Linked DNA regions of Homo sapiens: region 2 is linked to region 1. A link means that fine-mapping ties the variant in region 1 to the expression of a gene that starts in the linked region. Tissue or cell type: whole blood. Region 1 holds a variant in brackets; the other region holds the start of a gene. All regions are shown on one strand. Distances are between the middles of the regions.

What was found. PIP is the estimated chance that this variant, and not a neighbour inherited with it, causes the effect.
Region 2: it holds the start of LINC03033, and the variant in region 1 is fine-mapped to the expression of LINC03033 in whole blood (TOPMed, PIP 0.98). The same link has a PIP of 0.9 or more in thyroid.

What each region holds. Positions count from the first base shown.
Region 1 is chr14:61,650,571-61,658,677 of GRCh38, forward strand. LINC03033 (long intergenic non-protein coding RNA 3033) reads left to right here. Exons shown (of 3, transcript NR_039985.1): 2 at 392-447; 3 at 3,053-4,143. Among named protein-coding and RNA genes, the nearest start is that of HIF1A, 41 kb to the right of the region's middle. The variant T/G (reference allele first, on the strand shown) is at 3,479.
Region 2 is chr14:61,565,910-61,574,016 of GRCh38, forward strand. It overlaps LINC03033 (long intergenic non-protein coding RNA 3033), which reads left to right and starts at 4,631. Exons shown (of 3, transcript NR_039985.1): 1 at 4,631-4,851. LINC01303 (long intergenic non-protein coding RNA 1303) reads right to left here and starts at 4,744. Exons shown (of 5, transcript NR_110416.1): 1 at 4,577-4,744; 2 at 3,635-3,768. RefSeq lists enhancers at 2,336-2,837, 2,838-3,337 and silencers at 2,679-2,748, 2,829-2,988, 3,729-3,921.

The DNA of each region.
Region 1 (8,107 bases):
TGATTTTCACCAACTCCATTAATTATTTTTTGATGTGGAGATAAAAGATATAATCAGACACAATCCTGTAAAAATCAATTCACCTCCTTGGATATCATGATGATTTTAGTCACATATGCTCCTTTTGGATGGACATACCTATAAGGAAAGAAATTTTTTTAAATGCAGAAGTATATTAAATTTATTTGTTAAATAAACAACGAACATCTCCAGATAGCAGCAAACGGCAAGGAATTACATCCAGCTATAATTTAACCAGCCCGCCTTAGGATTGCCGCTATTAGAGTTCAGTGGTGGTATAAACCATCTCTAGTGTATGCTTTTTCTATAGATGGTTTATTAGATGATTTACAATGAAATCGAACACATGACTGTTCTTTAACCCCTCCAGGAACCTGATGAAATGCCTGGTCTAACAGGAGGATGCAGAGAAAGTTATGAAGAGAGGTAGGTGAGCTTCTGTGTTATTTATTCTTGGTCCTGCAATATGGTCAGTGAAGCATCCTGAGCGCTCACCGTTTCCCAGTGCTATAAAGCAAATTGGATGGATGAGTGTGATTTAGAGGAGAAGGAAACTGCAGTTATCACTGCTTTACCTTGACCTCTGCCTGGAGACAAGGCTGAGAGGGTGACTACAAAATTAGAGCAACAACTAACATATGCTGGATACATATCCTGGGCCAGGATGATGCCAGGTATTTTACAGTCGGTCACTCCTCACAACAACCCTATGAGCAGCAGTCTCTTCCTTAAGATTTTGAGCGGGCCCAGTAATCACTACCCCTCTTCATCCCCTTAATTCTCAAAAAATTAAGATATAAGACAAAGGAGTAACAGATGAAGATGTTATAATATCACCTCTATTACTGATAAAGTCTCCCTTACAGTGCTAGTGGGAGCATAAATCGATATAGCCATTTTGGAAAACTAAACCTGAATATATGCATTCTCTATGCCCCAGCAATTCCACTCACAGAAATATACCCAGTAAAGTGTGTACGTATGCTCACCAAACGACATGTACTAGAATGCTCATAGTAGCACTATTTGTAAAACTGGAAAATACCCATTTGCCTGGCAACAGTAGAAGGGATCAATAAATCTTGGTATACTCACACAATAGATTATTATATAGCAATAAGAATGATCAAACCGTAATTACAGGCAACAATATAGATGAATATTGCAAATGTAACATACTGGCAAAAAAAACAGATGCAGAAGAGCATGAACTGTATGATTTCATTTATGCAAAGTACAAAAGTGGGAAAATGAATTGGGTTTTAGAAGTCAGTTCAAGATAGTTGTTGCCCTTGGGTGGGGACAGTGATTGAGAGGGAGGAGGCAGGAGACTTCTTGGGGACTAGCACTATTATTTTTCTTGAAATGAGTACTAGTTACTTGGGTGTGTTTGGTTGTGAAAATTATAGAGCGATACACAAGCAGTAAGCATCTTTACCATATATATAGTTCTTCAATTAAAAAAATTTTTAAATCCTCTCTTGATCCCGTCTTCCCATCCAACTACCACTATCTCTCCTCTTCCCTGTAAAGCAAATGTTTTTGAATGGAGTGTCTTTGCTCGCTGTGTCCAATGTCTGCATTCTCTCTTGAACCCAGTCCAGCAAACCTTTTGCCCTAGATTCTAAAAAGCTGCTCTTATAAAGATCAATGATGACTTGCATATGGCTAAACCCAATGCTCAGCTTGCCTCATTGTACTTACCAGCAGCATTCCATACAGAATATCACTCTCTGCATATTCTTTTGGTTTCTGTACACAGTATCCATCACTAGGTGAACTCATGGAGCCTCATGGCTTTAAATGCCCTGTCTGTACTGATGACTGTCTCATTTATATTTTCAGCCCAAATCTCTCCTTGGCACATCAGACTTGTGCATTCAATTGCCCACTCAACATCTCAAACATAATATATTCCAAACAGATGTCCTGATATCCTCCAAACCTGCCCTTCCCACATTCTCCTCCTTCTTATTAAGCTTCTCAGATCTACTCCATCCTTCCAGTTGTGTAGCCCCCAAACTTTGGAATAACCCTAAACTTCTCTTTTTTTTTCTCATACAATGCATCTAATCCATTAACCAGACCTGTTGATTCTACCTTCAAAATATATCCAGAATTTACCCACTTCTTGCTGCTTAGACTGCCACCATCCTGGTCCAATCCACCTTCCTCTCTTGCCTGAATTATCTCAATAGCCTTCTAGATGCTTCTTCCCTGCCCCTCACTGCCCTGCCCCTTGCCTCTGCCCTTGCTGCCCCACAACCTATTTCCTACAAAGAGCGATCCCAGTAAACAATAATCCAAATTATGTCATTTGTCTGCTCCAGACCCTCCTGTTTTCCATCTCACTTAGATGAAAAGGCAATTCCAGGCTGTGAACTTCAAGACTCTGTATGATCTGACCTCACACTGGCTTTCAAACCTCATCTTGCACACTGCTTCCCCAGTGTGCTCTGCGTTAGCCGCATGGGGATTTTTATGGGTCCCTGGACACTCCGGGCATTTCCCTGGCTCAGGGCGTTTGCATTGGCTGTTTCTGCTTACTGGAGTTCTCTTTCCCTGCTATATACATGGTTTTCTCTCTCATTTCCTTCAGGTCTTTCTTTACTCAAATGACATCTTTTTTAAAAGAGGATTTCTATCTAAAATTTTATACACATATCTCTGTATCCCCCTTCTCAGCATTTTTTTTTCTCCTTGGCACTTATCACTCTCATGTGTGTGTTTGTTCATGTATTTATTGACTGAGTGATTTTTTTCTCTCCCAATAAGCTGCAAACTCTGTGAAGACAGGGATATTTTTCCCATTTTTGCCCCATCATGCTGCAAGCCCAAGGTACAATTAGAACACATCCAATTCACTGTCCATCTACCTGTGGCACTTCAACCATGACCACAAACCAAATCACTCTTCCTGTATCACATTCCCTGAGAGACTTTGTTTTCTCCCACAGGAAAGATTTGTTTATTTTTCTGATTCAATCAAATGTACCACTAGTTTCTGCAGGATTATTTGTACCTCTTTCAGGATCCTGAGGAATTTGCTCCTGGGCCATGAAGATGGGAAGCTGAGTCAGAGTGCAGTTCTTCACCCAATCCCACAGCCACACGTGCCTGCTTGCTCACGGGATCTTCCCACTCTCCTCGGGAAGGCTTCCGAGCTGCTTCCTCAGGATGTCCTGTGATAGCAGCCTGACCTGTCAAAGCCATGCGAATACCATCTGTTCAGTTATATAACTTGAGATCTGGGAAGAATTCTCAACGTAGGATTTGCTGCCCAAATCAAATCATTTTCAGAAAGGAGATTAAGCATTCTTTGCTGGGAAAAGGAGAAATTACCAGAAAAAATTATCATTTCACTGAGTATAAACAAACCTTTGTCCAAAATACACAAATGAAAATGACAAATTTGCTTCATTAATATTTGCTTGCATTAAAAATATACACAGGGCTA[T/G]GTATGGTTCAATATCTTAAGTGCAAAGTAAAATCTTAATTAGGAACAATGGAATTGTTAATTTAATGAATCTTAATTTTGTTTAGATCATTAGCCTGCAGTATAATGTCCCAAGCAGAATTTGGGGTGGGGAGCTTGGTGGTGGAAGAGGAAGTGCTCATTTCTACAGACATGACAAGATTATTAACACTAAAGAATGACTTTTCTTTCATGGGAGGGGAAGATATCTGACCCACCAGCAGTCAGACAGAAACCCTGACTTGTGATTTTAACATTACCTTATATGACCCATGGTCACCTTGTATGACCAAAGAAAACCATTTATGAAATAGCTGTCCGGAGTTCAAGATTTAAATGGTAACTTTGTAGACTAGGTTTTCTCTCATCATCTAATTTACTTGCCTTAACGCTTGTTTCTTTGCCCTTATTCCTACTGGCTCTCGAGTATAATATCCTGAGAATTTATGTTGAACAGCACTAATTTTTTCACTTGGAGCTAGCACATGTTTATGACTAGTACAAGTTTATAACTACAAAAAACAGAGATTTTGTCATCTTAAACTGAATTTACTGGGAATAAAATCAGTCAATTCAGAAAAGTATAACAAAGGAAATAAAAATCACCACAACTCCTACTACCTGAAGATTAAATGGTTAAAGTGTTTTGTATATTCTTCTGTAATTTTTACACCTACATGTTTTTTAAATAAAAATTAACCCTACCTATAAACCAAACAATATTATTTAACTAACAGGAGAAGAATAAATTATATTTTTTGATTGGCTGTATAGCAAAGAGAATCCTGCCATTCAGAAAAAAACAGGGTAAGACAAGGAAGGAAGCCAAATAGATGGACTGCAATGGAAGTTCACCCAGAATGAATAAATGAATGAATGAATGAATGAATGAATGGAGGAGCTATTTTACTGACTGTGGTCAGTCAGGGAACACCTATCAGAAAAAGCAGCATTTGGCCGGGGGCAGTGGCTCATGCCTGTAATCCCAGCACTTTGGGAGGCTGAGGCAGGCGGATCACCTGAGGTCAGGAGTTCGAGACCAGCCTGACCAACATGGTGAAACCCCGTCTCTACTAAAAATACAAAAATTAGCCGGGTATGGTGGCAGGCACCTGTAATCCAGCTACACCAGAGGCTGAGGCAGGAGAATCGCTTGAACCCAGGAGGCAGAGGTTGCAGTAAGCTGAGATTGCACCACTGCACTCGAGCCTGGTCAACAGAGCCAGACCCCGTCTCAAAAAACAAAAAAAAAAAGAAAGAAAGAAAGTAAGAAAAGAAAAGTAGAAACAGCCTTTGAGTAGAGACCAGTGAGCGATGGAACTCTGTAAGGATCTGGGGGAAAACTTATCTATCTGGTAGGAGGAAACCACAAGTGTGAAGGTAATGAGACAGGAGTGGAGTCAGTGAATTGGCGGAACAGAACAGCACAGAGGACCCTGGAGCTAGCCCGGGATGAGGCAGCGGAGAACAGCAGGAGACGACATGGAGGGAGACAGGTTTTTCCTTTTCCAGTTTTCTTCAGTTCTTTTGATTGACTCAGGAGAAGAGTCTTAGTTTGATATTAGCACATACTTAACACTTCTGGTGTTCACTACTCTATTTTTCAACAAAAAGACAGCAGACTTTGGGATCACAGCCTTCTGAGAGGATGGTATTTAACTAAAATATAATAACGTTGGTTTTTATTTTTTTTATTTTCACAATTACTATCTTTTCTTTTTTGATATAGGGTCTCACTCTGTTGCCCAGGCTGAGTGCAGTGACACCATCACAGCTCACTGCAGCCTCTAACTCCTGGACTCAGGAGGTGGGATCCTCCCCCCGCAGCCCCTCAAGTAGCTGGGACTGTAGGCATGCAGCACCACCTCCAGCTAATTTTTTACTTTTTGTAGAGATGGGGTCTTGCTATGTTGCCCAGGCTGGTCTCATACTTCCGGGCTCAAGCAATCCTCCCACCTTGGCTTCCCAAAGTGCTGGTATTACAGACATGAGCCACCGCACCCAGCACACAATTCCTCTCTGTTTATAGCAAGTTATGCTGGTTTCCTGTTTACAGGAGTGATAAAGTCTTTTTTAAAACAAATGTATTTAAGTTTCAAATTAAATCATCTTAAAGAAAAATATGACATAAGAAATGTCAAAAAGTGGTACATGATCAGAAGTGGCAAAAATCATAAAAGTAATTGGCAAGTGACTTAAGTTTGGGAAACACAGTTCTAATCCATCCCACCTATACCTGAACACCCTAAAGATGAATCCAAACCTATTAGAGACTTATTCCTGCTTTCTAAGATGATCACAACCTAGTTAATCTAGCTATAAATTAATCTGGATCACTAGTCAGTGATACTCCCACCTTCAAGTAAAATGGCTGCTTTTTGAGAGCTTTAATTCAGATTCTGTTCAGAAGAAATAACAGGTATCATTGTTAGTACAAGGACTGGTCATAGAGCTATATCCTGCCTGTTAACCACATAGATTCTGGCAGTGATTTCCCATTGATATCATCTAGGTAGTTTTACTGGTTTTTCCCCTAGTTGTTTCTCTTTTTTTGTTTGTTTGTTTGTTTTGACAGAGTATCGCTCTGTCGCCCAGGCTGGAGTGCAATGGTGCGACTTCAGTTCACTGCAACCTCCGCCTCCTGGGTTCAAGCTATTCTCCTGCCTCAGCCTCCCGAGTAGCTGGGATTACAGGTGGCCACCACCACACCTGGCTAATTTTTTGTATGTTTTGCAGAGGCAAGGTTTCACTACATTGACCAGGCTGGTCTTGAACTTCTGACCTCAGGTAATCCACCCACCTCAGCCTCCCAAAGTGCTGGGATTACAGGCCTGAGCCACCACGCCCAGCTCTCAGTTGTTTCTTAATTTGCCTGCCAGTTTGTTTTTTATATGATACTAATTGAAATGGAGGTCCTTCTTAAATGAACTTCTTTCACAAACAAAAACATTAGTTTTGGCAGTGATGGCTTACAAGAGTGTGTTCTATAATACCTACTTTGCAGATGCAATTTGAATTCTTCAATATGAGTTATTTGGATTTCTTTTTTCTGAAATTCTTTCTAATGAGATTTTTGTGGATTTTTTTTTTTGAGACAGTGTCTCACTATTGCCTATGCTGGAGTGCAGTGGCACGATCATGGCTCACTGCAGCCTCAAATTCCTGGGCTCAAGCGATCCTCCTGCCTCAGCCTCCCGCCTCAGCCTCCTCCCTCAGTCTTCTGAGTAGCTGGGCCTACAGGTAAATGCCACCACCCAACTAATCTTTTATTTTTTGTAGAGACAAAGTCTCACTATGTTACCCAGGCTGGTCTCAAACTCCTGAACTCAAGCAATCCTCCCATCTTGGCCTCCCAAAGTTCTAATGAGATTTAAGCAAGGAGATGGATGGAAGTTGCTTTGTACTGTTGATGTTCTCAGAAAAAAGAAAATCGAATCTGAACACAGCTATTGCAAGTACAGGTGCAGACTGATTACTAGCAAGTTAGATGGCCCAACACCATATCCATCTAAATGTAAATATTTTGCTTCTTTTTCAGTGGCTTCTAGAAGAGTGAGTCTGGAAAATACTGCCCCTACTTTCAAATGGGAGAAAGCCTCCCTTGTACTAAGTTTGCAATCATTAGAAAACTGTTGATATACAGCAAAAGAAACTACCATCAGAGTGAACAGGCAACCTACAGAATGGGAGAAAATTTTTGCAATCTACTCATCTGACAAAGGGCTAATAGCCAGAATCTACAAAGAACTCAAACAAATTTACAAGAAAAAACAAACAACCCCATCAAAAAGTGGGCAAAGGATATGAACAGACACTTCTCAAAAGAAGACATTTATGCAGCCAACAGACACATGAAAAAATGCTCATCATCACTGGCCATCAGAGAAATGCAAATCAAAATCACAATGAGATACCATCTCACACCAGTTAGAAAGGCAGTCATTAAAAAGTCAGGAAACAACAGGTGCTGGAGAGGATGTGGAGAAATAGGAACACTTTTACACTATTAGTGGGACTGTAAACTGGTTCAACCATTGTGGAAGACAGTGTGGCGATTCCTCAAGGATCCAGAACTAGAAATACCATTTGACCCAGCCATCCCATTACTGGGTATATACCCAAAGGATTATAAATCATGCTGCTATAAAGACACATGCACACGTATGTTTATTGTGGCACTATTCACAATAGCAAAGACTTGGAACCAACCCAAATGTCCATCAGTGATAGACTAGATTAAGAAAATGTGGCACATATACACCATGGAATACTATGCAGCCATAAAAAAGGATGAGTTCATGTCCTTTGTAGGGACATGGATGAAGCTGGAAACCATCATTCTCAGCAAACTATCGCAAGGACAAAAAACCAAATACTGCATGTTCTCACTCATAGGTGGGAATTGAACAATGAGAACACTTGGACACAGGAAGGGGAACATCACACACTGGGGCCTGTTGTGGGGTGGGGGGAGGGGAGAGGGATAGCATTAGGAGATATACCTAATGTAAATGACGAGTTACTGGGTGCAGCACACCAACATGGCACATGTATACATGTGTAACAAACCTGCATGTTGTGTACATGTACCCTAGAACTTAAAGTATAATA
Region 2 (8,107 bases), 85 kb before region 1:
CAGATAAGCTTTCAGGATATAGAACTTCAGATACCCACAAAACCATCTCTTCTAGTGTTGTCTGGAAATAAGTCTTGTGTTTATTCACTTTTACGTATAACTGTATCTCATCTTTCCAGGAAGATTGGAAACATATTCATGTTTAAGGCATCACAGTAGCTGACTCATCATTAGCTGTCAACAAATAAATACTTCACAATTAGATTTCTGGGAACAGTCTTCACCAAGAGACAGAAAGTTAACTGGAACTAAAATTTTAATCCCCTCAAACTCCAAGGAGACCTGTTTTCCAGGCATGATCCAACAGAACCGCTGCTTTTTAGAGTACCTTGGAGAGGCTATTTCTGAGGACAGCAAGCTAACAGGATCACCCCCCACCACCCTTTGCTTCAATTTGCCCTAGTACTCAGACTTAATTGGTGGGGACATGGGCATGTGTATAAAGCACGTGGAGATTATTTGTTATAATTCATCAGGGCTACCATTTGAAATTGGCCAGCACAATCATCCCTACTTGACCATAGTAATCAAGATGTGGCTGAGAAAGAAGGAGTGTTTGTTTCAACAAGCCAGAGAGCTGGTCTTCTGCTTTCTAAATGGACAATTTATAAAATTTAGATAGAGAGGCATCTTCCACTCTAGGCATGTACAACCCACCCCGCCATCCCAGTACATTCTTCTCTTTCCTTACATTTACCCATCCCTCCTGCCCCTCCTGCTTTCTTGAAGGTGAGTGAGCAGGTCCCAGGCTTACAGCTCAGTTGGACTGCGGTTGCCCTGTCTTCTCTGGTGATTTCTCTGTCTTATGGTCAGGAGCCAGACTCTGAGTCTGTTCAACTATGTAGAGGAAAGGTCACTAGAGAAATTCCACTTCAGCATTCCTCTAGGGATCAGAGATTCTGACTGCTCAACAAAATTACCTGGAGGAGAATTTTAATAATATGGCTTCCTGGAACTTACCCTGAAACATTCTGATTCAGTCAGTCTGGGGTGAAGATCAATTGGCTATATTTTTCTAAATCTTTATAGATGATTCTGATGCACTGGCAAGTTTGGACATTGGATAAATTCTAAGCTCTTTGAGATCAGGAAACAGATGAATCTCCCATTCTGTATCCCACAATGACTAACTCAGCACCTGGCACACAGCAACACTTTAGAAATTGTTATTGAGTCAATGAACAAATGGATGGTTGAAAATAGGGTGATGGATTGGGAGTACAGTCAACCTAGCATCTTTTAAAATAATTTTTAAATTGACAAATAATAATTGTACACACTCATGGGGGTACACAGTGATGTTTTGATATGTATTGTGTACAATAAATCAGGGTAATTGGCATATCCATTATCTCAAACATTTATCATTTCTTTGTGTTGGAAAATTCAATATCCTTGTTCTAGCTATTTGAAATTATATATTGTTAACTATAATCATCCCACAGTGGTATAGAACAGTACAGCTTATTCTTCCTATCTAGCTATAATTGTGTTTACTTTAACAAATCTCTCCCTATTCATCCCTCCCAGCCTCCAGTGTCCTCTGTTCTACTGTTTACTTCTATGAGATCAACTGTTTTTTTTAGCTTTCACATAGAAGAACATACAGTGTTTAACTTTGCCTTCCTGGTTATTTCCTTCAACATAATGTCTCTCCATTCTACCCACGTTGCTGCACATGATAAGATTTTAGTCTTTTTTATGGCTGAGTTGTATTCCATCGTTAAATACACACACACACACACACACACACACACACACACACACACCATATTTTCTTTATCCATTCTTTTTTTTTTCTGGACACCTGGTCAACCTAGCATTTTACCTAAAGGCTAGGCAAGGGCCAATGGAGGCAGAAGGCCAAACCAGTCACAGTGGGGCCAGGGATAGGAATAAGGCAGCAGCGTGGGGGTGGAAATAGAAGAAAACTTAGGTAATTTGATCCCCAAGTGGGAGAACATGACCCCTGTCCTTGAAAATGCTGCTACTTTCAGCGGTGCTGCCGCTTGCTGCCCCTGTGCTGGGACTGACAGGCCTTGCGCTCTCCAGTCCCACTAAGAAAGCAAATTGGATTGGTCACTTCCCTGTTTAAACCTTCCAAGGCCCTGCATTGTTCTCAGGATGAAGTCAATTCTCCTTTCTCTGGCTGAGTCCTGGCTCCTCCTCAGCCCATCACTGCTACTTGCCCTCATCTCTCTGTGCCCACCGGCCACCCTGCCTTCCTGCAGATCCTACCGCCTGCGGTGTTCTTTCACCAGCCTGTCCTCTCTGCCTGCAATGCTCATTCCCTGCCCCCATGTTCCCTAGCAAACTCTCCTGCGACCGTTAAATTACAGCCTAAAAACATCCGCTTCTCTTTTCCCCTGGGGGCTGCCAGTTCCCTGGGGTAGAGTTCAGTCTGTTGTGTCCAAAGCCTAGCCAGTAGATGCTCCCATGTTTGTTGAATGAACAGAAGTTGGGACGGGAAACCAACAGACGCTCAGGACTGGGGTTTGTTTTTGTTCCTGTAAAACTGGATTGGTTCTGCAGAGGCACAAACAAGCCCGTTGATTTAGATCTATCGAGGAATTGGGGTAGGGGCAGGGGTGGCAGTTTTGCTAAGAAGAAAAGCAGGTGAAAGTGGGAGATTCCAAAAGAGACCAGAGAGAAGGCAGTGTGTCCTGCCCAATCTGCCGCTAGGGTCAGAGACCAGCTCCCTAGTCACACTCGGCCAAGGCAGGCTGCCGGGCTGACTCCAACTCTAAACAAAGCCAGGCAGCCGCCCAGGTGGGTGAAGGCTGCAGATTGCGCTCAGGCGTGACGCCGGGGTGCAGGTGGGAGCGACGCCCGGGTGCGTGGGTGCAGCGCTCGCCCGCCCGCGGTTAGGCGCACCGCGGGAACCGGTCAGGTGCGCCGTGTGGGGCGGGGCGGAGGCAGGGCGTGCGCCCCCAGGCTGGTGCCTGGGGCAGAGGATTCGCCTGCTTGACGCGCTGATGCCTTGATTTGGTCTGACAAGTGGAGGCTGCTTTGAGAAGCGGCCTGTATTTTTGACATTCAGGAAGCTAGAAATAACCAGCTGGGCTCCTGGCGCTCTGGCCGCAAATGTCTTGCGCTTTCCAGGCAACTGCCAGATTGAAGGGGCTTTTCCCCAATGTAGACCTGTGCTCTGTGTGCTAGGAGGCCGAGGTTCCAGTCCAGGCTCGGCTTCTGACTCCCTACTTTAGGAGGAATCACTGAATTGACTGCAGCTCGGCTTCTGCTCTGTAAAATGGGGCTGTTGCTAGCTGAGCCTCTTCTGCCTCTGGTAGAAAATGATTCCAAGTGGCTGCCCTGTCCACCCTAATCCCATGGCCCGAACTTGATGTCTGCTGCTTCTAGAAGCCTAGTGCTCCAAATATCTGCTCTGGGAGGGACTTGCAGATGATCCTGATTGGAAATGAGGCTGATTAACCTTTTGTGTATCATTGACTCTAGGACAATCTGTTGAAACCTAGGGGCTCTTACCCTAGACAAATTAACACACCAGCCAGATACAGCTTACAAGGGCAGAGAGTTGCTGGTTTGAACCACAGACCCCTGGTTTAACATCTGTAATCTAGTCAACCCCTCCTCTTTCTTGAAGGCTGAACCAAACACGAAGGGTTTTCCCCACCTTCCAATCCTCATACATGCAGACACCCCCTTTTCCTGCTTTCTCCTTCAGTCATCTTCCTCACCATCCCCCATGCTTGGGCACTCTCAGGAGGGAAATTGTCCTATAAATATCTGTAAAAGGCATGGTATGTCCTGTAGCAGAGAAAGCAAAAAATAAAAATATAATTCCTCCACCCCTGGCATGGCACGTGCAGAGCTCTGCCTGATCCTTCTCTCCCACAAGCCTCGGGGGTGGGTAAACAAAAGTGAGAGGTGAAGCTGCTGCAGCGAAGTACCCCTTCAAAATCTTCAGTACCCTTCAGAGCCAGCGCTGTCATCACTATCACATAAACTGTACAACTCCAACGTCAACCAGCAGCCGCCTGGCTGGCAGCAGGAAGAGCCAATGCAATTTTGCACAGTGGCTTGCTTGCCCAAGGTATTGCCTGGCAAATGGGCTTCTTGTGCAATGGGGAACCACAGGGAGGGGCCTCTTAAATGTACCTCAAAGAAACAGCTCTAACAATGGATGATTCAACAGGCTAGTAATTGGCGCTCACTCTTACCACATTGTTTTGATAAAACGACATAGCCCAACTGGGGATATGAAGGCAGTAAGTAGAAAAGCTAACCTCTTGCTACTCAAATTGTGGCTGAGAACCAGCGACATCCCATCACCAGAAGCTTTATAGAAAAGCCAGGCTCTGTCCCAGACCTATTGAAAGGAGATCTGCATTTTAACATGATTGCGAGAGGATCCACATCTTAAAGTTTCAGAGGCCTAATCCAAAGTCTTCTGATAATGATCATTAGAGTCCCAGCCACCCCCGACTTCCCCCTGGGAAAACCACAACAAATAGAACAAATTCCTCCAAGCTCTGCTCATAAGAAGAACCCACAACCCACAGACACCCCCTCACTCAACTAGAGACCTCACCCACCTGTTTGCAGAGTCACCCACCTTGGGCTACTTCTTTTCTACTATTTAATCTTCTGGGAAAACAGAGGTCTTCTATTTGGAGATAAAAATGACAAAGGAGAACCTCCTGAACAGCATCCAGTTTGCTTTTAGCTTTAGCCATCTCTCTGACCTCAGTGCTGCTGGACTCAGTTCCAAGATCTAACTGTCAAATGCTTTAGGGGAAACGGGAAGAGAAGTCCCTGGAGTAACCCATGTGCGCAGCCTGGCACTGTTTTCACTTGCCTTTGGAAATGAAGGTGCAGAAACCATGGGAGGTAAGGAGGGCACAGACTAGTGACTTCCAGTGTGGGACAGAGGGGAAAAGATGGAAGAGAAGTGCAGAAAACCACTCGGGAAAAGACAGGCTGGAGTGATGCCTGCTGAGACAGGGCCCTGATCTCCCAGGACTTCCCTTTCTGCCTGTTCTGTAGAAATGTCTCGGGTTTTGTGGTTTAGGAAAAGAGATGCTTAGCAAGCTTGTAGAAAATGTAATGTGGGCACTTTGTTGCTGTCCTGGCTTTTAAAGGACTCTGAAGCAGATCAGCTTCAAGGTATTGGCTATTCTGTTTGCAGCCTTAGAAAGACATCCTTGATGTTTTATTGTTCTGCCTTTGCTAAGAGCTGGAAACTCTCCCTGGGGAAATGGCTCACCTTGAAAGAGATGCTATCGTAGCTGAAAATGTTTTAGCTTCACTTCCAATCTCTGGTTCCTTGTGGGAAGTAACTGCTGCTGTGGTATATATGCCCTGTGCCTTTTATTTTTACCATCTTTACCTCGGTGGACACAGCTGGTTGAAACTCAGTAAAACTTATGCTTCCATGGAGATTGATTCAGACAACAGGAAAAATAAGTGTAGAAAAAAACTGCACAGTACAAGGGCTAGATTCAGGTTGTAGAACAAAGTGATTATTACTTAGAATCCTGGATTAGCAAGAGAATAAGAAAGATGCTGAGATTACCTAGTGTTATCACCATCCACGTGAAACGTAGAATAAAACTTTTTCCCCACCACATAGATATTGGGCAGTTTATTATAGATGCTACAAAGGGATTTATTATATTTTTCCCAAAATGGTTAATTAGAGGCATCCCAAATTACAACTCCTTTAGCATAACTCCCAGCTCCATGCAGCCTACTTACTAAGGACCCAGCTACTGACAGCTCAGCTCTTTGCCAATCCAACTTTTTTTCCCCATATGCTCAAACTTTTCTTCTCCAAGAAGACTTCCTGAATGATCCCAATTCATAGGGATCTCATCCTTAATGCAGGGGAAATTCACTGTTCTGGAGTAGTCTACCATACCATCACGCTCTTCTTTTTGTGTAATCCTGGATTTCTTCTCCAGTTGTTTTATTCTTGCCTGTCTACACAGATAGATCAGTAGCCTTCAATAGTCTGCATCTCCTGTTATCTTGCAGCCTCCTACTATAAACAGTAGGTGCTTTACTTATGCCAGTTGGGTTGACCTAGACAGTAGTCTCTAAGTAGCAGTCCTTGGCTCATCCTTCTGAAACCAACGAGCTCTTAGGCAGGCTGAGAAAGGGTTAGGACTGTTCACTCTGGGACATCCTTGGCTCTGTATGAGTGTTGTTTTTAAAAGCAGGGATTTTGTCTCCAGTGCATTGAAGAGATAAAACCCCATTGTCAGCATATTTCTTCAGGATCTTTCTGTGTTAGATCTCACTGCCAAGCCAGAGTCCCCACACACAGACTCTCACTTTTCCCCCATCAATAGGCTGAAGTGAGGCAAGTAGTAGAATGTGCTCAAATCATGGCCTATTCTTAATAAAAGAAACAAGGACAGCTTGGGGCTGGCTCGTCTCTTCTCAAATTCTCCTAGTGTTCTGAACCAAATGTATGAAACGAATAGATTTGTTTTATTCGCAGGTATTAATGCTTCTCCGAAAGCAGTTGTTTGGGTGGCTGGAATATCAGTAGTCATTGACCAATAAGGCTTGCAGGTGTGAATCAGAGCAGTATTCTGGACTTCCAGAGTAGAGCTGCCATCTACTACTCTACATCACCTTCATCCTTACAGAATCACTGAGACCATTCATTCATTCACAAGCAGTTGTGTCTGCTACATGCCAGGCACTTGTAGTAGGCATTAGAGATACAATGGCAAGTGAAACAGACACTGCATGTAATCTACTGAGAGAGACTGGGAATTAATTCAATAAGTAAAAGTAAGTATATAATTATCAATTGTGATAAAGGCCCTGAAGCAAAAGAATAGGATGTTCTACAAGAATATTACAAGAGCTTTATCTGATCTAACGTGTATGGGGAGGGGAAGCCTCAGGGAACGCTTCTTAGGGGAAGTGACATTTGAGCTGAGCGTTGAAAGAAGAATAAAAATTAAAAAGTACAGAGGGGGCCAGGTGCAGTGGCTCACACCTGTAATCTTAGCACTTTGGGAGGCCGAGGCAGATGGATCACTTGAGGTCAAGAGTTCGAAACCATCCTGGCCAACATGGTGAAACATCATGTCTACTAAAAATACAGAAAAATTAGCTGGGTGTGGTGGCAGGGTGCCTGTAATCCCAGCTACTTGGGAGGCTGAGGCAGGAGAACTGCTTGAACCCAGGAGGCGGAGGTTTCGGTGAGCCAAGATCGCACCACTGCACTCCAGCCTAGGCGACAGAGTGAGACTCTGTCTCAAAAAAAAAAAAAAAAAAAAGTGAAGAGGGGTTAGAGAGTGCCCAGGATACAAAGAGTTAGTTCATTGGAGGAACTGGAGTAAAGTCCTTGTGGCTGGATTAAAGGGGACGAGGAAAACCAAGATATAAAGAGGTAGGCAGGGGCTGGATCACATGTGCACACAGTTTTGAAGACTTTGGCTTTTATTTTGGAACAGTGGAAGGCTGTTTTAAGCAGAGGATGAGAACATTAAATTTATGTGTCCAGAAGATTGCTCTGATGAGACAAGCGGTGAACAAAAACATCATTACTCAGGTCTCATCCAACTCTTCCATTGTATATTCTAATAAACCACCCAAGTTCTGCTTTCAGAGCTCTGAGCCAAAGTGAGTTATACCTCCCCAGGCCCACTGAAAATCCCAGAGAGCTTACTGAATGGCGTGGGGGCCCTGGTAAAACTCACCGTTCAGGCATTTGAATCTGGGCCACTCTATTACTATCAGCATTTTGCCTCCACTCCCAAGGAAGAAATCCTTAAAATTATAACCTTTGGGTCCCCATGCCCAGGCAGGCTGACTTCTCTTGGATCACAATAATCATGGTTTTGACTATGAATTGCCGATCCCAAGTTAAATGATTAACCCAAGGTCAATGAGCTAGTCAGCTGCCAAACCAAGGACAGATTTTCAGTTCCCTGAACTCAAGGCAGATGCACTTCTCAGGAATGCTGTCAGAGGCTTAGAAAAAGAAAGTGTTCCATGTTCCCAAAATATGTAAACTTATTCTTTGATATTCATGTTTATTCTATGACTCAGAAGTTCCCACGATCATTTTCTGGGGTGATCAGAAACTCTCTTTGAGGGGGAAATGATTCCTTACTTGAAAAGC